Regions from separate parts of the Homo sapiens genome. Here region 2 is linked to region 1. Evidence: fine-mapped expression QTL. A gene starts in region 1. The other region holds a variant in brackets. All regions are shown on one strand. Distances are between the middles of the regions.

What was found. PIP is the estimated chance that this variant, and not a neighbour inherited with it, causes the effect.
Region 2: its variant is fine-mapped to the expression of GPR160 in whole blood (TOPMed, PIP above 0.99).

The regions. Positions count from the first base shown.
Region 1 is chr3:170,033,010-170,041,343 of GRCh38, reverse strand. GPR160 (G protein-coupled receptor 160) reads right to left here and starts at 3,349. Exons shown (of 4, transcript NM_014373.3): 1 at 3,129-3,349; 2 at 2,301-2,429. RefSeq lists silencers at 2,325-2,374, 2,535-2,584, 2,895-3,374 and an enhancer at 1,970-2,469.
Region 2 is chr3:170,215,150-170,223,483 of GRCh38, reverse strand. PRKCI (protein kinase C iota) reads right to left here and starts at 1,060. Exons shown (of 18, transcript NM_002740.6): 1 at 714-1,060. The coding sequence starts at 814. RefSeq lists a silencer at 700-989 and enhancers at 1,170-1,329, 1,340-1,399, 1,470-1,529. The variant C/T (reference allele first, on the strand shown) is at 4,030.

The sequences.
Region 1 (8,334 bases):
GGTGACAGAGCAAGACTCCGTCTCAAAAAAAAAAAAAAAAAAAAATCTTTACATCCTTTAGACTAGTGAATCTACACGAGCAAGGTCTACGCCGGGGAGATTCACCGAACACTTCAACTTTTAACTGTCCCAGATCTCATCTCTTTGACTTGTTTTATCTTTAAATCAAAAGGCATTACATTCAGTTATACTGAAGCGACTAAAAAATGTGGATTTACCTTTTGGAAATATACCTCCCCTTCCTCCCTCTACTAACTTCAACAGCTCCCTCTCAGAATCACTATTCCAAAGTACTGACCAAGCATGACAGAATGAGTAGGAATTATAGGCTAAATCTGGAGAAAAGAAATCTGGAGCAAGCCTGATGAAGATATAGCTATTACTCCTTCCTTACCCTCTTTCAAGCATGATTCTTAAAAAAAATGTGTTACCACCATGCAGAACTTTTAGGAGTCAGTGCTTTGCTAAATATTTACATGTCATGATCGCTGAAGCAAACAAGATAAAGATGAAATAGGCAACACAACACAGCTAAGCTCTCTCTCAAGCAATAAGCAGCCCTCTACTCATCTTGTGCTTTGTTTTCATCATATACACTTTTTACTGAGGCATGCAATGCTTTCAGAAGTGTACATAAATCCTAAGTGCATACCGACACGTGTGTTCACTACTGCAAACTCTGTTTTTTGATGAACACAACTTGGAAGGGATTTGGGCAATTAGGAAAAACTGCTAACACGTTTTATACAATCCGCCCGACCGGAGGCAATCAACCCCCAGGCTTGCTAATGCCCTTTGTGTAAAAAAAGCTGACCTAGCCTCCACCTGCATCAACTTGATCCGCTCAGCTTTGTCACACTCAGCAAACACCCTCTGCCTTCTGAGCAAAATAAATCGGCACCTCCAGTAGGGAGAAAAAAACTTTTTATGACCGAGTCTGGAGAAGCAGCCTTGACACCCAATTTACAAAGAACGAGCGTCTGCGGAAGACCTTGCATCTAGACTCGGCTGCAGTGCCAAACCTACCTTATGCAAAAAAGCTCCACAAGTGGTGGTGTTCTGTTTAAAGGAAAATGCCAAACACACACAAATACTGAAACAATAGCATAAGGACTTCCATAACCATCATCCAGCTTCAACTATTTTTATTTTTGTTTTACTTTAAGTTCTGGGATACAGGTGCTGAATGTGCAGGTTTGTTAATAGGTATACATGTGCCATGGTGTTTTGCTGCACCTATCAACCCGTCATCTAGGTTTTAAGCCCTGCATGCATTAGGTATTTGTCCTAGTGCTCTCCCTCCCCTTTCCCCCCACCCTCCGACAGGCCCCCGTGCCTGAAGTTCCCCTGCCTGTGTCCATGTGTTCTTCCCAGCTTCAACTATTAACAATCCATGAACAATCTCCTCTCATCTTGTTCCCCTCCCTTCTCTGCTAGCATCTAAAACTGAATAATTCTGAAGCAAATCCCAAAGCTGTATTTCAACTTCAGTCTGTGTCTCTACAGGGATTTTAAAAACCTTAATCAGGATACCGTTACCAAAAGTAACTAAACAGAACTATTATAATTTCCTTGATACCATCAAATAATCAGTAGAAATGTCCTTCATCGTCTCCTTATTTATTTATTTATTTTGAGACGGAGTCTCGCTCTGCCTCCCAGGCTGGAGTGCAGTGGCGCCATCTCGGCTTACTGCAACCTCCGCCTCCCGGGTTCAAGCGATTCTCCTACCTCAGCCTTCCCGAGTAGCCGGGATTACAGGCGCGTGTCACCACACCCAGCTAATTTTTGTATTTTTAGTAGAGAAGGGTTTCACCATGTTGGCCAGGCTGGTCTCGAACCCCTGACCTCAGGTGATCCACCCACCTCGGCCTCCCAAAGTGCTGGGATTACAGGTGTGAGCCACCGCACTCGGGCATCATCTCCATTTTAAAAAACATTCATCAAATCAGGATCCAACCAACGTCCACACCTTGTATTGCCACCGAATTTCTCTTAAATCGTTTTGAAACTGCACACAGGTCCTCCTCCCTGCAATTCGCATAGCAACCAAGCTGATCCTCACTGACAATTTCCAAATAACTATAATAACTCTATTCTGGAGATATCACAAGTGCCGGTCTTAGAGCTTGTCAAATGTATACATATATGTTTATATTTATATATAAATGCACAAAAGCACACAAGAAACCATTTCACTCGAAGCAATAACAATCCTGAGAGCTAAACACTCGTTCATGTCTTTTGTGATGCTTCTCGGTGGGGGTTATCTCTGGGATTTAAGCGACACTTCCCCTTACCGGAGACATTTGCGCAAGTGTAGGACGAAGCGAGAGCGGTTCCTTCCAGCCGAACCTGCCTCCGGAGGCCCGGTCCGTGCGTTCGTCTCCGGACTGCAGGGGGCGGCCCTGCCACCACCTCGAGGCCACCTGCGCAGGTGAGAAAAGGAGTTTCAGTCTCCGGGTTCCTGGGGGTGGTCGCAGGTAATCTAGAGGGAATTTTGAGCCAGCCAGGATGGTCATCCAGGAACCTACCCGGACGCAACGGCCTCGGAAAACAAATAGCCGGGCAAGGCCCTGGGGCTTAATCCCAGTGGCGGGCGCGGGCGGGGGCGCCGTCCCCAACGCTCGAGGCCAGGGGAGGGGAGGCAAAGTCGGCCCCAATGAATGCACGCACGCGCGCGCGCGCGCGTGTGTGTGAGACTATTCACCTCTGGGCGCCAGGAAAGAGCGAAGAGTTGCATACACCCATTTCTATAACCTTGCTGGGTTTGTCATGTTTAAAAAGCATCTCCCCTGGAGAGAGGGTGGCGAGTCTCTGGGTGCGGGACACGCCCATTCCCCAGACCCCCTGCCCTCAAACCCACGACAGACCCCAGTTGCTAAGGCTCCGCGGTAATCCCCATCCCGAAGCAGGAAGGCTCGGGCGTCCGGGCTCCACTCCTGGATCTCTTAAGTAGCAGAGAACCCCCAGCCCCTGAGTTCCTGCAAAGGAAATTCCTTCCCCTCCCAGGCGCGCTGAACGCCCGGCCAGGGAGGCTGGGAGCGGCGCGGGGACCGTTCGCCGCCCCGAGGCTGGGACGCCGGTGGCGAGAGCGCCGGGCGCCCTCCACCTGCGCCCGCACTCACCCGAGGATCGATGGCTGTCGGCTCCGCAAGGTTGAGGCCCCGACACCTGCAGCGCCCGTGCCCAGGTGACCGCCCGAGGGAGGGGCGAGGGCCCAGCTCGCCCGCCTGGTCCCGCCCCGCCCCGCCCCGCCCCGCGCGCTCCCGGGAGGGGCAGGGGAGCACGGCCCCGGGACCCCGCGGCGACCCTGCTGTGGCTCAGCCGGCTCCAGACCAGGAAATGCGGGCGTCAGAGACGGGCAACCTTTGAGCGCGCACGTCCCGTCCGGGCCCAACGAAACAAGGGCCGGAGGGCGCCGCCTGCCGGCGGGACGGAAAGATATCACAGAGACTGTCACCCCCCGCCGGCTAGGAGAGGGCTGAGTTGAGGCTGGCAGAGGGACGCAGCCAGGGGTGCGCAGTGCGGGAGCCGCTTGGGGGCTCAGTGAGACCCCCTTCCTCATGCCACATCTTGAGGACCCGGCCCCTGTCCTAGGAGCTCCCCATCTCCCCAGCAGGCGGGCGAGCGGGGGCCACTGGGTCAGGGCCTCTCCTTCCCTTACCTCTGCAAATGTAAACTTGGCAGTTGTCTCCAGATAAGAGTTTACACAGGGTGGCCAGGCGGTGGCTCATGCCTGTAATCCTAGCACTTTGGGAGGTCAAGGTGGGCGGATCACTTGAGGTCAGGAGTTTGAGACCAGCCTGGCCAACATGGTCCACGTTGGTCCCCATGTCTACTAAAAATACAAAAATTAGCCGGGCTTGGTGGCACGCACCTGTAATCCCAGCTATTTGGGAAGCTGAGGCACGAGAATCGCTTGAACCCAGGAGGCGGAGGTTGCAGTGAGCTAAGACCGCACCACTGCACTCCAGCCTGGGCAGCAACAGCAAGACTCCGTATCAAAAAAAAAAAAAAAAAAAAAAAAAAAAAAAAAAAAGAGTATACACAGGGTGACAGAACTTCTTGAAACTTGTATGCTTCTAAGCAACCGCCTGCAGTGTACTGTGAATTCAGATTTTTAAATAAAAATCTGCAAATATTAAATAGCCCATATATTGCATTGCCTTTTTTGTGTCAACAGTGCTAATTTGTTGTCATTCAACAAATATTTGTTGAGCACCTACGACTTGCCGGTCATTTAAACATTTAAAATATCGAACAATTAGGCCAGCGCAGTGGCTCAAGCCTGTAATCCCAGCACTTTGGGAGGCCGAGGCGGGTGGATCACTTGAGGTCACGAGTTCAAGACCAGCCTGGCCAACATGGTGAAACCCTGCCTCTACTAAAAATACAAAAATTAGTTGGGCGTAATGGCACATGCCTGTAGTCCCAGCTACTTGGGAGGCTGAGGCAGGAGAATGACTTGAACCCAGGAGGCAGAGGTTGCAGTGAACCAAGATCACGCCATTACACTCCAGCCTGGGCAACAGAGACAGACTTCATCTGAAACAAATAAAATAAAATAAAATATTGCACAATTTCTTCCTTCTCCTCTTCACGCAGAGCCTTGAACAAGGGGAGTGTCCTGAGCCTCTCAACCTCTCTGAGTGTCATAGCAGTTAGAGATTAAAGATGACCATGTCCATACACGTTTGTATCTCTCCACAATGTCAGTCTTTTTTTTTTTTTAAATGCTATTTCAATCACAAAATCCAGGAGCTACATGGAGTTCCCAAGGAGGCAATTCTCCTTAGTCCTTCCCATTCACTCTGTAGTCAGAGCACATAGGTTCAAGCCACTCCATAAGTCAGTAAATATTGCAAACCATACATACTAGTATACTTAATCACTATACGAATGTTGTAGATTAAACATTCCACAACAAAGTAATATTTAACATCAAGACGAAGAAGAGGAGAAAGGGTTAATGAACCAGTCCAAAGGGAGGGAAGAAGACAAAGGGAGTCCTGGTCTGGGCCTGGTGGTCTTGCAAGGAAGAGTCTTTGATGTGGCAGAGCTTTCGGTGGCAAATTCTGAGTTCTTATCATGAGTGACTGCAAGACGGTGTTAGTGAAGACAGCCAAGCTGAAGGCTTCGCTCTTTTACAGTCAGAGGGTCCTCTGGTGAGAACTTATAGTGGATGAGTGTGCTTGTTTGTGTTCTTTTTTAAAATTTGTTCGTCAAGCAAAACATCTTATCCTTGTTAGCAAAGTGCCCATGAAATATAAAATGGAGGGTTTTTCTAAGATGGAATTAGTTACCTCAAGGGTGGTTTATACACTGAGAGTCTGGACTAGCCTTGCAAGGAACTCAGTAATTGCCCAAGGGTGCAAGAAGAACCCTGATAGAATTAAGTGTGGGTTGCTAGGGAGACTGAGGAGCAGCTTCACCTGGCCTGGAGTGGCAGAGAGAACTTCCTGGAGAAGTGCAGAGGCCAACTGAATCACAGAGGAGTACCGGGTTCAACGGGATGTGAGGTGCTTCCGCCAAGATTCCAACGTGTGCAAAGTGGGAAGTGGAAAGCCAGGCAGAGAGTTCATGTTCTAATAAGGGAATGGCAAGTGGGTCAGAAGACCTGAGAGGGAGAGGATGGGAGTTGAGTTAGAGCAGAGGGCATGGGGGCCAAATCATACTCATAACAAAAATAACCATCATCTAGGGAGTGGATAGTATAGAACAGGAGCTGGACATACATAACTTCAAACGAGCCTCACGCCAACCCTGCAAGGTAGGGTTATTACTCTCCTTTATAGAAGAGGAAAATGAGAGCCGGGCACAGTGGCTCACACCTGTAATCTCAGCACTTTGGGAGGCTGAGGTGGGCAGACTGCATGAGGTCAGAAGTTTGAGACCAGCCTGGCCAACATGGTGAAACCCCGTCTCTACTAAAAATACAAAAATTAGCCAGGCATGGTGGCGGGCGCCTGTAATCCCAGCTACTCAGGAAGCTGAGGCAGGAGAATCACTTGAACCTGGGAAGCGGAGGTTGCAGTGAGCTGAGATCACACCATTGCACTCCAGCCTGGGCGACAAGAGCGAGACTCTGTCTCAAAAAAAAAAAAAAAAAAAAAAAAGAAGAGGAAAATGAGACTGAGACCCAGGAAGGAGAGACATATTGCTAGTGACAAGGCTGGGGTAGGGTAGCTCTGAGCAGCCAGGCTGCCCTGTCAATGCCTCTCTCCAGGCGGATCTGGGAGGCTGGATTTATCTTCAAATACTTTCAGCATCCCCAAGTGCCTGCCACTCTCCCACCATTTCTTAAGCCGATGTCAACAACTGCCCTGAAGTCTCTCTGTCTAGAGATGATGTGTACATGGGTCCGCATACCAGACTCCTCCTGAGGGGAACTCTGTCTCAGGGGCTGGTGGAGGAACTGTGGCAGACAGAGACCTTGGTTGCTCCCCACTGTCCATTCTTTCCTTCTTCTGTAATAAAGTCATGTGCTGCAATGACATTCTGGTTAACAATGGATCACATCTACAACAGTGGCCTCACAAGGTTAGAATGGAGCTGACAAATTCCTATCACCTAGTGATATCTTGATGATACTGACCCTGTGTAGGCCTGCACCTTTGTTTTTAAGAAAAAAAGTTTAAAAGGTAAATAAATGCATTTTCAAAATGGGAAAAATAAGCTTATAGAATAAGAATAGAAGAAAATATTTTTGTACAGCTGAAACGTATTTGTGTTTTAAGGCGTATTATTACAAAAGAGTCAAAAAGTTAAAAAAAAATTTAAAGTTTACAAAGTAAAAAAGTTACAGTAAGCCAAGATTAACTTATTGTTAGTGTAGCCTAAATGTAGTGTTTATAAAGTCTGCGGTAGTGGACAGTAATATCCTAGGCCTTTTCATTCACTCACCCACAGCAACTTCCAGCCCTGCAAGCTCCATTCATGGTAAGTGCTCTATACGGGTATACCGTTTTTATCTTTTATATTGTATTTTTACTGTGCCTCTTCTATGTTTAGAGACATAAATTCTTACCGTTGTCTACAGTATTCAGTACAGTTGCCTACAGTATTCAGTACAGTCACATGCTGTGGAAGTTTGCAGCCTAGAAGCAATAGGCTATACCATATAACTTAGGTGTGTAGTAGGCTATACCATCTAAGTTTGTGTAAGTACACTCCATGTTCACAAAATGAAATTGCCTAAAGACGCATTTCTCAGAATGTATCCCTGTCATTAAGGGGCTGTAATAGAACTGAAGCTAAGCCCAGAGCTTCGTGGAACAAAGACTATCTTTCCCTGCCTCCTTGTAGCAAAATGCATCAACAGTGGTGCCCAGAGCTCCTAGAAATCCAGAGTCCAGTGGTACTTCCGAGGCGGCTTCTCCTCTCCCGACATCCCTGATCCGTCAGTTCTTTACGGGGCACTGCTAACTGCCTCCTCAAATCCATTCTCGCCTTCTTAACTTCTAAGAGAACCCAGATTTTGTACAGGGAGGCAATGTGCCAAGCTAAGATGCCCACTTTCGCGAGGTCATCGCAGGGGTGATCACATGACATGGTTCTGGCCAATGAGATGTAGGAGGAAATGGTCCCGTGACACAATTCTGGCCATTGAGATATAGGAGGACGTCAGCTGGCAAGTCCTGGGAAGGTTTTTGCTTTCCTGTTGCGGGTACTACCCCTTTTCTCAGCCTCCTGTTTCCTTCCTGCTTTGAGGTTGCTGTGAGGTTGCCTTGAGGCTGGAGGTGGAGCAGTAGTCTTAGACTCTGGGACAGCCCACAATAAAGGTGGAGCCGCACCCACCTAGCTGTGCCTAGCTCCAGATGTCTTACTACACGAGAAAAGCAACCCCCTTACTTGTTTAAGGTCAGGGTTTGTTCCATGGAATTGAATATAATCCCACTAGATATACTATTGTTCCCAAAGAAAAGCCTTGTCACCTAAAAATAAAATCCTAAGCCCCCCACCGACTGAAAAGAACCTCTCTTGGCCAAGGGGACCCCAGAAAAGCCTTAAACTGAGTTCCTGGCCATGACAAGATGGGAGGTCAACCACATCTCATTATACCCCTCCCTTTTATGGTTTAGACACAACTGACCAGCATTAATGTTAAAATAGAGATCATAAGGCTGACAGAATAGACTCTTTGTGGCAATAAGATACCACATTATAAACAGGACATAGGCCTGTGTTCTAACTATATTATGTGAAAGGAAAATATCTTGAGGCCCCCAAATCACTAAGCTAAAAGGAAAAGTCAAGCTGGGAACTGCTTAGGGCAAACCTGCCTCCCATTCTATTCAAAGTCACCCATTAGTCACTGGCTAGTATAAATGA
Region 2 (8,334 bases), 180 kb before region 1:
TAACTAGGCTAGTCTCCTCACCTTGCAGTATCTCACCCTATCGGGTAGTCGTTGAAACAACACTGAGAAAGAAAGGCTCACAAAATTTTGATTTACACACATGCAACTTAATCTTGACGACACGTAAGTACCCACTGCACGTCCCTGAAAACGCATCGACTTGATTCTTAAATACAACCCCTATGTCTAATATACTGGCAGTGCAGATACACTACGTGAACACAACGGGGATGGAGGTATATCTCAGAGAACCAGAGGCGTTAGGCCTGCTGGTAATCAAAACGGACAGCTAACTGAAGAAGTCCCGTTTTCTATCCCCACAGCAAACTGAGTTAACTAAGGCATCACTTGGAATCCTCAACTCGCAACCCCAAATACACCCAGACTTAAGGATGCAAGGCCCCTACAAAGCTCTCAGGAGGCGAGTCTCTCGTCCACACCAGGTGCACCTACTCTAACCCTAGCTTCCTTCTCGGACCCTACTCTGGCCCCTCGGCTCCCCGCACCGCCATACCTGGGGGCGCCCCCAGTACTGCATCCCCTTGCTTCGCCCCCACCCCTATCACTTCGTCACTCACCCTGAGTCACCGGAGCCGCCCGCCCGCCCAGCCCAATCCGCCCACAACACCTCCAGCCCCTCACCCTCCCCTCCTCCAGGCCGAGTGGAGCCGGCCTGTCCCCTCCCGCCCACCGCCCTGTCCCAGGACACTCACCCGCGGTAGTAGGCTTTCACCCGGACCTGGTGGGAATGGTCCCCGCTGCCGCCGCCTGCGACCGTGTGGGACATGGTGCTGCTGTCCCTCTGGGTCGGCATCTCCTCACTCCCCCGCCTCAACGCTGGAGGCCGGGGGTGCGGGGGGGCGCTTCGGGCGCCGTGGGGGACTCCGCCGCCTGCGCTTGCCGGAGAACCGCGGCCGTCCGCCCACCTACCTGCCCACCTCGCCCGCAGCGCCGACCCAAGGGTCGCCTCGCCGGAGCAGCCGGAACCGCGCGGCTCCTCCCACTGCCCGTAGGCGCCGCCGCCTCTACAGCCGCCCGGGCCCAAGACACCTCCTGCGTCGGTCCCTCCCACTTCGCTCGCTCCAAAGGCCCACATTCCGGGGTAGGGCGGGCGCAACCATCCAGCCAGCTCAAGGAGCCTCAATACCGGGCTGAACCATCCTTACGGGGGCAGAGAAAGGGGACAGAGGGAATGGGAGACGCTGATCATGGCATCAAACACGCCGAGAGGGGTGCTTTCACGCGAGCTGTGAAAGAGACAATGACCAGCTCTAGATCACTAAAGTCTCTTCCCTGCAGGGACAATGGTAGGGACAAATTCTACGACACCTCACCCTAGCCTCGCAACTTGGTCACGTCTGCGGTCGGCCGACTTGGCACCCGGGATAGATTTGCGTGCAGGTTTCTGGGATTTGGAGTCCTCATAGGATTCTGGGACTTGAGGTTCCTTGCGCGTAGGGTGCCGCGCCTTCCCGCTGGTGAAGTCTGTCTCTCCAGCGTGCTCCCTGGAGCTGTCGGGGTGGAAAACCTGGATCCAGCTTGGGCATCTGAAGGTCCTGGAAATGACTGGGCTTCCTCACGTTCTAGACTTTATTAACTGATGAAGTCTCCCTTCTTCTAATTGCATAAATCGTCTGAATTATACATGTCTTTTGGGGGAACAAGAATTTGGTTACCTGCTCAGCATAACCTCTTTTATGGAAATAATTTAATAACATATGTAACAAATATAATAAAGGAAGAAACTCAACCAGAAAATATGATGAAAAACCGATTTTTCTTCTTTGGGGGCCCCCATATCTAGGCCCTTGTAGACTGCCCTTGCATGGAACAAGAGCCCAATGAATACTTACCCAATCAAGTCAGTCAATCCAAGAGCATTTCATTCTGTAAAAACTGGCTTACCAAAGATTAGAAAGAATCGTCCTTGGCCGGGCGCGGTGGCTCAAGCCTGTAATCCCAGCACTTTGGGAGGCCGAGGCGGGCGGATCACAAGGTCAGGAGATCGAGACCATCCTGGCTAACACGGTGAAACCCCGTCTCTACTAAAAACACAAAAAATTAGCCGGGCGTGGTGGCGGGCGCCTGTAGTCCCAGCTACTCGGGAGGCTAAGGCAGGAGAATGGCGTGAACCAGGGAGGCGGAGGTTGCAGTGAGCCAAGACTGTGCCACTGCACTCCAGCCTGGGCGACAGAGCAAGACTCTGTCTCAAAAAAAAAAAAAAAAAAAAAAAAAAAGAATCGCTCTTGTAACCTAGTCTTTGACTTTCCTAGGATCTTGGCTCTGACACATAATTTACACTGCAACTACAGGTAGCATGAATCCAGCCCCTGCAGCAGTCCTGGTGCTGAAAGAGTTGGAATAATCAAAGAAATAGCTTTCTTTACGATGATAAAATAGGCTTGGGGGACTGAGTCATCAGTTATGTGTGACACTTCAGCGTGGTACGACATCCTCCAACTGCTACAGACTTGGATTATATACTCTTACTAAAAATTCCCCTTGAGTCAGGCAAAGTGCTACATGCCTGTAGTCCCAGCCTTTGAGAGGCTGAGGCTGGAGGATCACTTGAGCCCAGGAGTTCAAGGCCAGCCTGAGCAACATGGTGAGACCCCATCTCTTAAACAAACAAAAAAATCCCATTGAAAAACTTGGTATCAGGTTTTTCAGTAATTGGAGACCTGCATCAGCAAGTTTAATACGGAGCGATTAATTATGGAATATATTATAAAATATACGGGCACCTGTAATCCCAGCTACTCCGGAGGCTGAGGCACGAGAATCGCTTAAACCCAGGAGGCAGAGGTTGCTGTGAGCCTCTGAGACTGCACCACTGCACTCCAGCGAGACTCCGTCCCTGGGCAACACAATGCACAGTGAGATCCCGTCTCATTTTTTTAAAAAAAGATAATTCACATGCCATACAACTTACTCATTTAAAGTGTAAAATTTGATAGTTTTAAGTATCTTCACAAAGTTTTGCAACCATCACCTCTACCTAAATCCAGAGTATTTTCAGCACCCTGAAAGTAACTGCATATCCATTAGCAGTTACTCCCCACTCTCCTCAACCTCTGGCAACCAATAATATATTTTCTGTTGCTATGAGTTTTTCTATTCTGAACATCGCTAGTAGCTGGGACTACAGGCATGTGCCACCACACCCTGCTAAATTTTGTGTTTTTTGTAGCGCCGGGGTTTTGCCATGTTGTCCAGGCTGGTCTCAATCTCCTGGACTGAAGCCATCTGCCTGCCTCAGCCTCCCAAAGTGCTGAGATTACAGGTGTAAGCCACCATACCCAGTGAAGGTTTCAGTTTTTTTTAATGTCCTTGCCAATACTTGGTTTTTTTCCCATCTTCTTTATCATAACCATCCTAGTGGTTGTGAAGTGGTATCTCATTACAGTTTTGATGTACATCTCCCTAATGACTAATGATGTTGGGTATGTTTTCGTGTTTTTATTGGCCATTTATATATCTTCTTGGAGAACTATCTATTCAGATCCTTTAATCATTTTTAAATTGGGTTGTCTTTTTTCATTGAGTTGTAAGAGTTCTCTCTTTTCTTTTTTTTTTCTTCAAGACAAGATCTTGCTCTGTTGCACAGACTGGAGTGCATGGCATGATCACAGCTCTCCAACTCCTGGGCTCAAGCGATCCTTCCACTTCAGCCTACTGAGTAGCTAGGCCCATAGGCATATGCCACCACACCCAGCTAATTTGTTTTTCTCGTTTTTGTAGAGACTAGGTCTTCCTATAATGTCAAGGCTGATCTTCAACTCCTGGGCTCAAGTGATCTTCCCACCTTGACTTCCCAAAGTGCTAAGATTATAGGTGTGAGCCACCATGCCTGGCCAGAGCTCTTTATATATTCTGGAAATACATCTCTTATTAGATTATTTGCAAATATTTTCTCCCACTCTGTGCATTATCTTTTCATTTTTTTAATCTTTTCATATTTTTGATGGTATTATTTGCAGCATAAAAATTTTTAATTTTCACGAGGTCTAATTTATTTTGTTGTTGTCA[C/T]GTATGGTTTTTGTTTGTTTTACTGTGTGCCAGACTATATGTTATATATGTTTTTAGTGTCATGTCTAAGAGGGCTTTGTGTAATCTAAGATCATGAAGATTTACACCTATATTTCCTTCTAGAAGTTTTATAGTTTAAACTCTTACTTTTTAGCTTATGATCCATTTTGGGTTAATTTTTGTGTCTAATGTAAGTGGTCCAAATTGATTTCTTTGCATGTGGATATTCAGTTATCCCACCATCATTTGTTGAAAAGACTATTTTTCTCCCATTTAATTGTTTGCACAATTGTCAAAAATCAAATGACCAAAATTTAAGGGTTTATTCCTGGATTTTAAATTCTATTCTATTGATTGATTTGTCTATCCTTTGACAATAATCACAGTGTCTTCATTACTGTAGTTTTTTAGTAACTTTTAAAACAAGGAAGTGTGAGTCTTACAACTTTTTTTTTTTTCAAGAGTGTCTTGGCTATTCTGGATCCCTTACATTTTCATGTGAATTTTAGGATCAACTTGTCAATTTCTTTAAGAAAGCCAGCTGAGATTTTGATAACGATTGCCTTGAATCTGTGAATCAGTTTGTGTGGTTTTTGTCATGTTAACAGTATTAAACCTTCCAATCCATGAACATGGGATAACTTTTCATTTATTTAGGCAGCTTCAATTGCTTTCTCATTTTCAGAGTATACATTTTGCACTTCTTTTACTCTTAAATATTTTATTCTTTATAATGCTATTGTAAACAAATTGTTTTCTTAGTTTCCTTTTTGAATTATTCACTTCTACTATAGAGAAATGCAGTTGATTTTTGCATATTGTTGATATTGTATTGCAGAACTTGTTTATTAGGTGAATTCCTTAGGATTTCCTGCATATAAGACTGTCATTTTTTTTTTTTTTTTTTTTGAGATGGAGTCTCGCTCTGTTGCCCAGGCTGGAGTGCAGTGGCACGATCTGGGCTGACTGCAAGCTCCGCCTCCTGGGCTCATGCCAGTCTCCTGCCTCAGCCTCCTGAGTAGCTGGGACTACAGGCACTCGCCACCATGCCCAGCTAATTTTTTGTATTTTTAGTAGAGACAGGGTTTCACTGTGTTAGCCAGGATGGTCTCAATCTCCTGACCTCGTGATCCACCCGCCTCGGCCTCCCAAAGTGCTGGGATTACAGGCGTGAGCCACTGTGACCAGCCAAGACTGTCATTTTAAAATACAGATTAAAAAACAAATAAAATGAGGCCAGGTGTGGTGGCTCATGCCTGTAATCCCAGCACCTTGGGAGGCTGAGGCGGGCGGATCACGAGGTCAGGAGTTGGAGACCATCCTGGCCAACGCAGTGAAACCCCGTCTCTACTAAAAAAAATACAAAAAATTATCCAGGTGTGGTGGTGGGCACCTGTAGTCCCAGCTACTCAGGAGGCTGAGGCAGGAGAATGGCGTGAACCCAGGAGGCAGAGCTTGCAGTGAGCCGAGATCGCACCACTGCACTCCAGCCTGGGCAACAGAGCGAGACTCTGTCTCAAAAAAAATAAAATAAAATAAAATACAGTTAGATTTATATTATCCTCTTCAATCTGGATGCCTTTTATTTCTTTTTGTTACCTGATCATATTGGCTAGAACCTCCAGTACCAAGATAAATAGAAGAAGAGGCTGGGTGCAGTAGCTCATGCCTGTAATCCCAGCACTTTGGGAGGCCAAGGCAGGTGGATCACTTGAGCCTAGGAGTTTGAGACCAGCCTGGATAACATAGTGAAACCCCACCTCTATTAAAAATAAAAACAAGGCCAGGTGCGGTGGCTCACGCCTGTAATCCCAGCACTTTGGGAGGCCGAGGCAGGTGGATCATGAGGTCAGGAGATCGAGACCATATTGGCTATCGCGGTGAAACCCTGTCTCTACTAAAATACAAAAAATTAGCCAGGCGTGGTGGCGGGCACCTGTAGTCCCAGCTACTCGGGAGGCTGAGGCAGGAGAATGGCATGAACCCGGGAGGCGGAGCTTGCAGTGAGCTCAGATCGCGCCACTGCACCCCAGCCTGGGCGACACAGCGAGACTCCGTCTCAAAAATATAATAATAAAAATAAAAATAAATAATAAAAATAAAAACAAATTAGCCAGTTATGGTGGTAGATGCCTGTAGTCTCAGCTACTCAGGAGGCTGAGGTGGAAGGAATGCTTGAGACTAGGAGGTGGAGGTTGCATTGAGCCAAGATTGTGCCACTGCACTCCAGCCTGAGCAACAGAGTGAGACCCTGTCTCAAAAAAAAATAAGTAAATAGAAGAAGTGTGGACATTCTTGTCTTGTTCCCAGTCTTACGTGCATAGCTTTTAGTCTTTCACCATTAAGTGTTATGATGATTGCTCTAGGTTTTTTGTGTGTGTCCTTTATCACATTGAGCGTCAGTCTATTCCTAGTTTGCTGTTTTTATTATGAAAGGGTGTTGAGTTTTGTTAAGTGTTTTTCCTATGTCCATTGAGATAATCATGTGGTTTTGTTTCTTATTGTGTGATATGGTGTGTTACATTAATTGATTTTTGGAGATAAGCCAACCTTGCATTCCTGGAACAAATTCCATTTTGTTATAGTGTATAATTTTTTCATATGTTGCTGGATTCAGTTTCCTAATATTTTGTTGAGAAATTTTACCTCTATACTCATAACAGATACTGGTTATTGTTCTGTAGCTTCTGTTTTTCTTGTGATGACTTTGGTTTTGGTTATCAGGGTAACTATCCTTATAGAATTAGTTGGAAAGTAATCCCTCTTCTTACGTTATTTGGAATAGTTTGTGAAGAATTAGTATTAATTCTTATTTGAATTTTTAAGAAAATTCACTAGTGAAGCCATCCAGTTCTCACTTTTCTTTGTTAAGAAGATCTTGGCCAGGCCCAGTGGCTCATGCCTGTAATCCCAGCACTTTGGGAAGCTGAGGCAGGCAGATCTCGAGGTCAGGATATCAAGACCATCCTGGCCAACATGGTGAAAACTCGTCTCTACTAAAATACAAAAAAATTAGCCAGGTGTGGTGGCGCACACCTGTAGTCCCAGCTACTCTGTAGGCTGAGGCAGGGGAATCGCTTGAACCCAGGAGGCAGAGGTTGCAGTGAGCCGAGATCGTGCCACTGCACTGCAGCCTGGCAACAGAGCAAGACTCCGTCTCAAAAAATAAAAAATAAAAAAGAAGATCTTAAACACTTCGGGAGGCTGAAGTGGGAGGATGGCTTACGCCCAGAAGTTGAAGACCATCTTAGATAATATAATGTGACCTCATCTCTACTAATAATTTAAACAATTAGCAGGTGTGGTGGCACCTGCCTGTGGTCCCAGCTACTCAGCAGGCTGAGGCTGGAGGATCTCTTGAACCCAGGCAGTCAAGGGTGCAGTAAGCTGTGATCACACCACTGTACTCCAGCCTTGGAGACAGAACGAAAGCCTGTCTCAAAAAAATAATAATAATAAGTTACTGATTCAATTGCTTTTTTTGTTATAGGTTTATTCAGATTTTCTATTTTTTTCTTGAGTCAGTTTTGGTAGATTGTATCTTTCTAGGAATTGGCCCATTTCATTTATTAATTTCTTCACATATAATTGTTTATAGTATTCTTTAATATTAGAATTTAATAATTCTTAAGAATTCTTTTTATTTCTGTGAAGTTGGTAGTTATGTTCCCTCTTTCCTGATTTTAGTAATTTGGTCTTCTTTTTTTTCTTGGTGAGTTAAAATTTATCAACTTTGTTGATCTTTCAAAGACCAATTTTTGGTTTTGTTGATTTTTCTCTATTATTTTCTGTTCTCTATTTTATTAATTTTTGCTCTAATCATTGTTATTTATTTACTTCTTGTTGCTTTAGGTTTACTTTGTCCTTCTTTTTCCAGTTTATTAGGATGGAAGTTTAAGTTACTGATTTGAGATCTTTCTTCTGTTTTAATATAGGTGTTTATAGCTATCAAAAGAAATACTCCAAACACTTCTTTAGTTGCATCTCATAAATTTTGGTATGCTGTTTTTGCATTTTCATCCATTTCTTAGTATTTTCCATTTTCCCTTGTGATTTTGTCTTTTTATAAGTGTGTTGCTTAATATGCACATATTTTTGAATATCCCAAGTTTCCTTCTGTTATCAATGTCTAATTTCATTGTGTTGTGCTCGGAGGACATGCTTTGTATAATTTCAATTATTTTAACTTTATTGAACCTTATTTTATGTCTAGCATATGGTCTTCTGGGAGAATGTTCCACATGCAATTGAGAAGAATGTGTATTCAGTTGTTAATAGGTAGAGTTTTCTACAGATATCTGTTAT